Linked DNA regions of Homo sapiens: region 2 is linked to region 1. Evidence: fine-mapped expression QTL. A gene starts in region 1. The other region holds a variant in brackets. All regions are shown on one strand. Distances are from middle to middle. Region 1 holds the start of ALDOC (aldolase, fructose-bisphosphate C). Region 2 overlaps FAM222B (family with sequence similarity 222 member B).

What was found. PIP is the estimated chance that this variant, and not a neighbour inherited with it, causes the effect. A credible set is the group of variants that fine-mapping cannot tell apart.
Region 2: its variant is the best candidate, but not a certain one, in a credible set for the expression of ALDOC in whole blood (TOPMed, PIP 0.68).

Annotation. Positions count from the first base shown.
Region 1 is chr17:28,574,862-28,579,248 of GRCh38, reverse strand. ALDOC (aldolase, fructose-bisphosphate C) reads left to right here and starts at 2,354. Exons shown (of 9, transcript NM_005165.3): 1 at 2,354-2,448; 2 at 3,705-3,828; 3 at 3,915-4,126; 4 at 4,243-4,297. The coding sequence starts at 3,717. SPAG5 (sperm associated antigen 5) reads left to right here. Exons shown (of 24, transcript NM_006461.4): 19 at 1-108; 20 at 497-577; 21 at 721-876; 22 at 957-1,031; 23 at 1,159-1,239; 24 at 1,479-1,675. The coding sequence ends at 1,550. RefSeq lists an enhancer at 1,952-2,131 and a silencer at 2,182-2,421.
Region 2 is chr17:28,838,250-28,842,636 of GRCh38, reverse strand. All of the region lies in intron 1 of FAM222B (family with sequence similarity 222 member B), which reads left to right. Among named protein-coding and RNA genes, the nearest start is that of FAM222B, 2.3 kb to the left of the region's middle. RefSeq lists a silencer at 1-68 and enhancers at 1-268, 4,110-4,387. The variant C/G (reference allele first, on the strand shown) is at 2,124.

The sequences.
Region 1 (4,387 bases):
GAGCTGCAAGCTAGGCTGCAGGCCCAGGAAGAACAGCATCAGGAAGTCCAGAAGGCAAAAGAAGCAGACATAGAGAAGCTGAACCAGGCCTTGTGCTTGCGCTACAAGGTGAAGGAGGGACCTAGAAGTGGGGCGATGAAGAACTGGGGCAGCTCTACTGGCCCACTGGGAGCCATTATCTCTCCAGGAATCTGGGTGGTGGGGATTTTCCAACCACTGCCCTAGTTTTGCCCTTCCTGGGGTCAGACATTTCACATGTCAGCTATGGGCTGACCTGTCTTCCCAGGCTGACTCAGGAGAGAAGTCAGGAACTCTAGCAGAGCTCTCCCAACACTGAAATGTGCCTTGCCTGGCTTGGCCCTGGGGAAAGAATTGGCGTGATATCAATTGGTCCCATGTGGGCTAAGCATGGGTCAGGCACTCTCTCCTACCTCCTGGCAAGGGCTGTGAAGAGACCAGCTCTTCATGTGTCTTCTCACCTCCCTTTCCCTCACAGAATGAAAAGGAGCTCCAGGAAGTGATACAGCAGCAGAATGAGAAGATCCTAGAACAGATAGACAAGAGTGGCGAGCTCATAGTATGTTCACCATCATGCCCAGGCCTTTGCCTTCTGTGTTACTGGTCAGCCAGGATCCCAAGTATGAGAAATGGTTTGCTTTTGTTCACCACATGTTGTCTATCCTTATGTCCTATTGGACACCTCTCCATTCTCATTCCCAGAGCCTTAGAGAGGAGGTGACCCACCTTACCCGCTCACTTCGGCGTGCGGAGACAGAGACCAAAGTGCTCCAGGAGGCCCTGGCAGGCCAGCTGGACTCCAACTGCCAGCCTATGGCCACCAATTGGATCCAGGAGAAAGTGTGGCTCTCTCAGGAGGTGACTCAGAGTTAACAGAGGAGCTGGACAGCAGGTGGGGACCCCAGGCTGTACCCCTGTTGATCTGGACATATTTCTAGGTGGACAAACTGAGAGTGATGTTCCTGGAGATGAAAAATGAGAAGGAAAAACTCATGATCAAGTTCCAGAGCCATGTAAGAATGTCCATGCCATTCCAGGGCCATTTCCTACCATCGTTAACAAATGCCCCGCCATGTTTCCCCTGTCCTACCAAGTTTGCTCTTTTATGCATAGGACTTATAAAATCTGTTTGCTTTCTAGAGAAATATCCTAGAGGAGAACCTTCGGCGCTCTGACAAGGAGTTAGAAAAACTAGATGACATTGTTCAGCATATTTATAAGGTATAGGCAGGAGGGAGGTGATATCACTAATGAACCTGGTACAAGGCCTGGCCCCAGGAGGTACTAATGAGCACAGATCTGGTTCCCAGCCTGTGCTGAGAGCTGGGCCTGAATCACTATTGCAGGCTTCTCTGTGGTGTCTGTTTTCTCCCCTCTAATTCAGCGGCTGCCTCCTGGGGCTGGGAGCCCTGGGCCTTAAGTCTGTGGTCCTGAGCTGCGTTTTCTGCCTCTCTTCCCAGACCCTGCTCTCTATTCCAGAGGTGGTGAGGGGATGCAAAGAACTACAGGGATTGCTGGAATTTCTGAGCTAAGAAACTGAAAGCCAGAATCTGCTTCACCTCTTTTTACCTGCAATACCCCCTTACCCCAATACCAAGACCAACTGGCATAGAGCCAACTGAGATAAATGCTATTTAAATAAAGTGTATTTAATGAATTTCTCCAAGCTTACGGAATCTTACTTTTTGGGTGAGAGGGGGCGGATGATGAAGTCAGGGAAGAAGCAGCTTGGGCCTCCTGCCTGGGCACCCTCCATAGATCCCTCTCCACCTCCTGCTGCATCCAAAGCCAAGGCTGCCTGCCCTTCCTCCCTTCCTCTGCTTTCACCAAAACTCTGGGCACTGGACTGCTTGTTCCCTGGCTCACCGCCTGGAGGAAACAGAAAGGCTTCATTCTCTTACTTTCCCCAGCCCCCTCGGGGGTATACCCTGGCAAATATGGGGGTGAGGACAGAGAAGCTCAGTTCATTACTTCCTGCCCTGAACTTGGGCACCTTGAAGATGCTTCTGCCCCACCTACTCAACCTGTTGTTACTGTTCTGGTGCCTCCTCTTCACCAGACTAAGCTTAATCCCCAGCATCCAGCAAGTGCCCGGCACGTGGTAAAGGGATTGTGGCAGAAATGAACGCAAGGTCATGGCCAGGCTCCCCGAGGTGGGAGGGCAGTCCCTAACAGCCACGGATGCCTGGCGGGGCGCTCACTCCACCTCGCCGCCCCGCCTCTGAGGGCGTGGTCTTGCCCCGGACACCAGTCCTGGGGAGGGGGTGTGGTCAGGGCGGGGCATGCAGGCCACGCCCCCGGAGGAGTCACGTAGCTCTGCGACATCCGCAGCCTCATTTACCAGAGGGAGCCAGGGCTGCAGCCTCATCTGTTTGCGGATCAGAACCCGAGCTGTGCTTGTGGCTGCGGCTGCTAACTGGCTGCGCACAGGTAAGGCCAGGCAAGGCGGGAGCCACTCAACATCTCCGCTTCATTTCCTTGGCTCTTCCCCTGCCATCCTCGTCCTGCTACCTGGGACTCCGGGATGTGCCCTTTCGACCCTTTCCTAACATCTTTGCTCCTTTCCGCGTACTTGAAACCCCATGGCTCAACCTCTTCTGTTCTATCCCTCTTCAGCTCTCCCAGCTGGACCTCAGCTTTTCCAATCCCAAATCCTCCTCTACTTGTTGGATTTTTCCTTGGAGTCTGTCTCTCCTACCCAGAGCATTTCCTTCTCAGCCTGCTCCCTCTCCTCCTAGGCTAGGTCCTCTCTCCAGTTCTCCCGCCTTCTCTGCCCCCCGGTCTAGGTCTCTCCCGCTGACTGGTTAGCCTGCATCACCACTAGCTCCCCTCAGTCTCATCTCTCTCTCAGGCTCTCTACTCCTTTCAGCCTTGGTCCTCTGCCCTCCCGTCTGGGTGTCTGAGTTGTGGGGAATTGAAGTGCTTCCTATTGCTATCCTCCTGCCAAACAGGTGAAGTGCTTCCTGGGCACAGAGATGACCCGGAGGTGTCACTAGCCCTAGTCTCCACACACTAACACAGCTGACCCGCTGGGCCCTCTTTCCTACATCACTGCAGCCCCACTGGGGCCAACCTCTGGTACTGGGTGGGAATAGGCAATAGGCATAGGCAGGCAGGTTTGGAGTACAGAAAAGGAGAAGCTGCAGGAGCCTGTGACTGGTATTTGTGCCACTCCTACTCCCTACCTGTTCTTCCAACCTTTTCCTCTAGAAGCTGAGAGAAGAGGGTGGCAATAAGTACTTTTGCCTCATTCTGAAGCCTTGGAAGTAAGTACACTTTCCCTAGGGGTCCTGTGGAGGATGAGAAAAGGGAAGCTGGAAAGGCCAGGACTTTTGCCTACCTCAACAAGGGACCAAGTTCAGTGAAAGAAGGGTTGGCATCCTTGATTGGGCAGCAGATTTATCAGAAGAGCTGTGGCTTCAGGGCTGCTCACCTCCCCACCCCCACCCTGCATCTTTCCCCAGGGCTGGGAAGGATGCCTACCAGGGACAAAAGGAGATGTGGGAACTGGAGCCCTAAGCTTGCTAGCTGTCAGAAGGACTGGTGCCACTTGATGCCCAGGACTCATGCCAAGGACTGCTGCCCTGTTCCCAGCCCCTTGCTTGATGGGGAGGCCATTTGGCCCATCTGGCCAGGAGAGGCAGCAGAGGGTGAGGTCTGGCTTTTTTATCTTGTCTCCACTCCAGGGAGCTGTCACCATGCCTCACTCGTACCCAGCCCTTTCTGCTGAGCAGAAGAAGGAGTTGTCTGACATTGCCCTGCGGATTGTAGCCCCGGGCAAAGGCATTCTGGCTGCGGATGAGTCTGTAGGTAAGTGGACATCTGTAGCCAGGTAGGGTACAGGTGGCTAGGGGACCCTGGGGATGTTCTCACTGCCTCTCTTTGTTTGCCCCTAGGCAGCATGGCCAAGCGGCTGAGCCAAATTGGGGTGGAAAACACAGAGGAGAACCGCCGGCTGTACCGCCAGGTCCTGTTCAGTGCTGATGACCGTGTGAAAAAGTGCATTGGAGGCGTCATTTTCTTCCATGAGACCCTCTACCAGAAAGATGATAATGGTGTTCCCTTCGTCCGAACCATCCAGGATAAGGGCATCGTCGTGGGCATCAAGGTGCAGCCCCTGGCCCTGCTCTGAATGGAAGCTGGGTGTGAAAATAAGCTTGTGTAGGAGGGGTAGCAAGGAGAATCCTGCCTGGATTCAACCCTCTGCTTGTACTTCCTCTACAGGTTGACAAGGGTGTGGTGCCTCTAGCTGGGACTGATGGAGAAACCACCACTCAAGGTATAGGATGGGTGGGCTTGAGGACCAAAGAGGTGTTAGATAGTTGATGCTGGTAAAAGAGGGGCAGAGTAATGAGGTTGGCACTGTGCT
Region 2 (4,387 bases), 260 kb before region 1:
AACTTAGCGGAAGGATACATGACTTTGTGGGGTGGGCTCTGACTGTGGGAGACGGAAGGGCGTGGGGGAGGTACAGTTTGAGGTGATGATGGGAGAATTTGGGGCACGGGTGGCCCGGTCGCCGGCCGCAGAGCTGGACAGCTTGGTGGAGGGGGACGGGGTTGCGTGCTGTGGAGTGAAGCAGCCCATTTGTATCATCCCTTCCTCCAGGAGCTTTTGGTCGCCTCTCCTTTCCGCTTCTTTCAGAGAATGATTGCGGGGGGAGGGTGGTGGAGGATGAAAGCTCTGCTGGAGCTTAAGAAGCCACCTCTGAACCAGGCAGGGGAAGGGTCGGTCTCCCGGAGTAATAGGCTGCTCTGGGTAGAGGATGGGAGTCGGGAACCCTCTTTTGAAAGCCGGGAGGGGTCTAGGGAAAAGAGCTAGGGGCTTAGAGTCAGGCAGGTTCGAAAGGAAGTCCACCATTGATAAAGCTGTTAGGTAACCTTGGGCAGGTCCCACTTAACCTTTCTGAACACCAGGAAGATGTCATGCTTCAAACGGGCTATTGCAAGCATCACCTATGTAATTGAGATTGTTTATGCAAATTGTGAATTGTAAGTACTATGTTGATGTTAATGTATCACCAACAATGTTAGTGGAATTTAGACCTTACCGTTGTTAATGGAATGACTGATTTCTCTGTTAAGATAAGAAGCGTATTGTTTGTAAAACCTCAGTAGACACATATGTGCTTTCTTTATGGGCACAGCAGACCATGTGCAGAACTACCAGTTCTGTAATGTGATAAATTAGCCATCAGACTTCTGTAGGAAAAATACCGTACTCCGGCGTTTTTACAAACGGTTTGCAGCTCCTCACCCGAAAGGATGGAGGGCCAATCTATTAAAATATTTTCTGAACATAGCTAACTCATGTTGCCTTATAACACAGTTGGCACTAATGTGCTTTAACGAGTTGAGAAAAGGCCGGGTGCAGTGGCTCATGTCTGTAATCCCAGCACTTTGGGAGGCCGAGGCGGGCGGATCACGAGGTCAGAAGTTGGAGACCAGCCTAGCCAACGTAGTGAAATCCCGTCTCTACTAAAAATACAAAAAATCAGCCGGGTGTGGTGGCGGGCGCCTGTAATCCCAGCTGCTTGGGAAGCTGAGGCAGGGGAATCACTCGAACCCGGGAGGCAGAGGTTGCGGTGAGCCGAGATAGTGCTATTGCACTCCAGTTCGGGTGACAGTGCGAGACTCCGTCTGGAAAAAAGAGTTAAGAAAACTAGTTTGAGACAAGCTGGGAGGGCTGCCCAGTGAGGGATGTGAAAATATAATTTGTTTATTATATTTTATTTTATTTTTGAGACGGAGTCTCGCTCTGTCGCCAGGCAGGAGTGCAGTGGCATCATCTCGGCTCACAGCAACCTCCGCCTCCCGGGTTCAAGCGATTCTCCTGTCTCAGCCTCCTGAGTAGCTGGGATTACAAATGCCCACCACCACGCCTGGCTAATTTTTGTAGTTTTAGTAGAGATGGGGTTTCACCATGTTGGCCAGGCTGGTCTTGAACTCCTCACGTCAGGTGATCCACCCACCTCGGCCTCTCAAAGTGCCGGGATTACAGGCGTGAGCCACCGTGCCTGGCTATTTTGTTATCTTTATTTTTATTTTATTTTATTATAATTTTTTTTGAGGTGGGTGAAGGAGTCTTGCTCTGTCACCCAGGCTGGAGTGCAGTGGTGCGAACTTGGTTCACTGCAACCTCCGCCTCCTGGGTTCAAGCAATTCTCCTGCCTCAGCCTCCCTAGTACCTGGGATTATAGGCACGTGCCACCATACCCGGCTAATTTTTGTATTTTTTTTAGTACACTCGGGGTTTCTCCATTGCTGGACAGGCTGGTCTCAAACTTCTGACCTCAGGTGATCCGCCCGCCCCAGCCTCCCAAAGTGCTGGGATTACAGGCGTGAACCACCGTGCTTGGCCCATTTTATTATTTTTAAATTATAAAAAGTTCTCCTTTGCAAAGGAGTCTCTGGCTGCTCCGGGGACCTGTCGCTGTTTTGGAGGTCAGATATGCATAAGGCAGCCCTCTAGCTCTGCTTTTTGTTACCCTGCTTGTCAGTGGGATCTCTCAGGTGGAATAT[C/G]TCAGAAGAGGAGCCCAAGAGGTGTCTTGGTTTTCCTGAGAGGCTGAAGAAACACTCCTGAGACGTGTTTTTTAATGTAGACAAAGCAGAGGACAAACTATGTGTTTATGGAAAGAGAAAATGGGTTCTTTTTATTTTATTTTGTTTTGACACAGAGTCTTGTTCTGTCGCCCAGGCTGGAGTGCAGTAGCGCAATCTCGGCTCATTGCAACCTCCACCTCCCGGGTTCAAGCAGTTCTCCTGCCTCAGCCTCCAAGTAGTTGCGATTACAGGCACCCACCACCATGCCCGGCTAGTTTTTGTATTTTTAGTAGAGATGGGGTTTCGCCATTTTGGTCAGGCTGGTTTCGAACCAGGTGATCCGCCTGCCTCGGCCTCCCAAAGTGCTGGGATCACAGGCGTAAGCCACCAAGCGCAGTGAGAAAATGGTTTCTAAAGTAGAGATGCAGACTCCTTTTAAAAGGACATAGACACTTCAGCTTTGCTGACTCTGAGGATTGAGACCTTAAACTGTCAAGGCGTTTTGGCAATTGATGAGTGATTGGTCTTTTACCTGAGTAAAGGTAGGGAGGGGCTATACTAGATTCTTGAAGATTCACAAATAAGGGGAGTGAATTTACAGGAATGGGAAAAATGAACCTGGTTGTTTTTAACTTCTCTGTCTGGTAAAATGTGTTTCACTTTTCTTTCCTGGAAATGCACAGTGATGTATAATTTTAACCTTTTTACTTTAGTTCCTTGACCGTCCCAATAGATTATTTGTCTATAATACTTTGTTTAAGATAATAGTTTTAAAAATAAAGCATTTGTTACTATTGTGATAGGTCATTACAGAAATTTATTCCATGTTTGACTACTACATGGAGTAGAGTATAAAATGTTAAAGCTGGGCATAGCTATCTTATTTTATTTTTTAATAGTTGGACATTTATTTTTAATGTTGGTAATGCATTTTTCCCCCTACTGGAAATTTCCATCAGTTCAAATAAGCGCATAAATGCCACCCATGTTATGTTAAAATAATAGAGGTTTGTTCAGCTGTGATGAGAATTTCCTGTCCTCCTCTCCTTCTGTTATCTTTCCTACTTGTGGTTACTTTTATGTAGTAAATGACCTTACAAAATGAGGATTTCTTTCCCTGGGGAAGAAAAAGGGGTGGGCTAGTATCTTGATTGCCTTTCGTGTGAGAAGTTTTTCTAAAGTGGGAGAGGAACTTTGGAGATTTAAGGACTTCCTGTGAATCTCTGACATACCAGGGGCTAAAATAAATATTTATTGGCTTATTATTATCATTATTATTATTTTTTGAGACGGAGTCCTGCTCTGTTGCCCAGACTGGATTGCAGTGGCGCGATCTCGGCTCACTGCAAGCTCCGCCTCCCGGGTTCTCGCCATTCTCCTGCCTCAGCCTCCCTAGTAGCTGGAACTACAGGCACCCGCCACCATGCCTGGCTAATTTCTTTTCATATTTTTAGTAGAGACGGGGTTTCACCGTGTTAGCCAGGATGGTGTCGATCTCCTGACCTTGTGATCTGCCCGACTCAGCCTCCCAAAGTGCTGGGATTACAGGCATGAGCCACCATGCCCGGCCTTATTTTATTTTTTTTGATACCAAGTTTCACTCTGTTGCCCAGGCTGGAGTGCAATGGCGAGATCTCAGCTGATTGCAACGTCTGCCTCCTGTGTTCAAGTGATTCTCTGGTCTCAGCCTCCTGAGTAGCTGGGATTACAGGCGCGTACCACCATACCTGGCTGATTTTTGTATTTTTAGTAGAGATGACGTTTCACCATGTTGGCCAGGCTAGTCTCGAACTGCCGACCTCAGGTGATCCGCCTGCCTCGGCCTCCCAAAGTGCTGGGATTGCAGGTGTGAGCCACCGCGCCCAGCCAAAAATCTTTTTTTTGTTTTTAAATTCTATTTATTTATTTATTTATTTTGAGATGGAGTCTCTGTCGCCCAGACTGGAGTGCAGTGACGCGATCTCGGCTCACTATAAGCTCCGCCTCCAAGGTTCACGCCATTCTCCTGCCTCCGCCTCCTGAGTAGCTGGGACTACAGGTGCCCGTCACCACGCCCGGCTAATTTTTTGTATTTTTAGTAGAGATGAGGTTTCACCGTGTTAGCCAGGATGGTCTCGATCTCCTGACCTTGTGATCTGCCTACCTCGGCCTCCCAAAGTGTTGGGATTACAGGCGTGAGCCACCGCGCCCGGCCTATTTGTTGTTTTTTTGAGACAGGGTCTCACTCTGTCGCCCAGACTGGA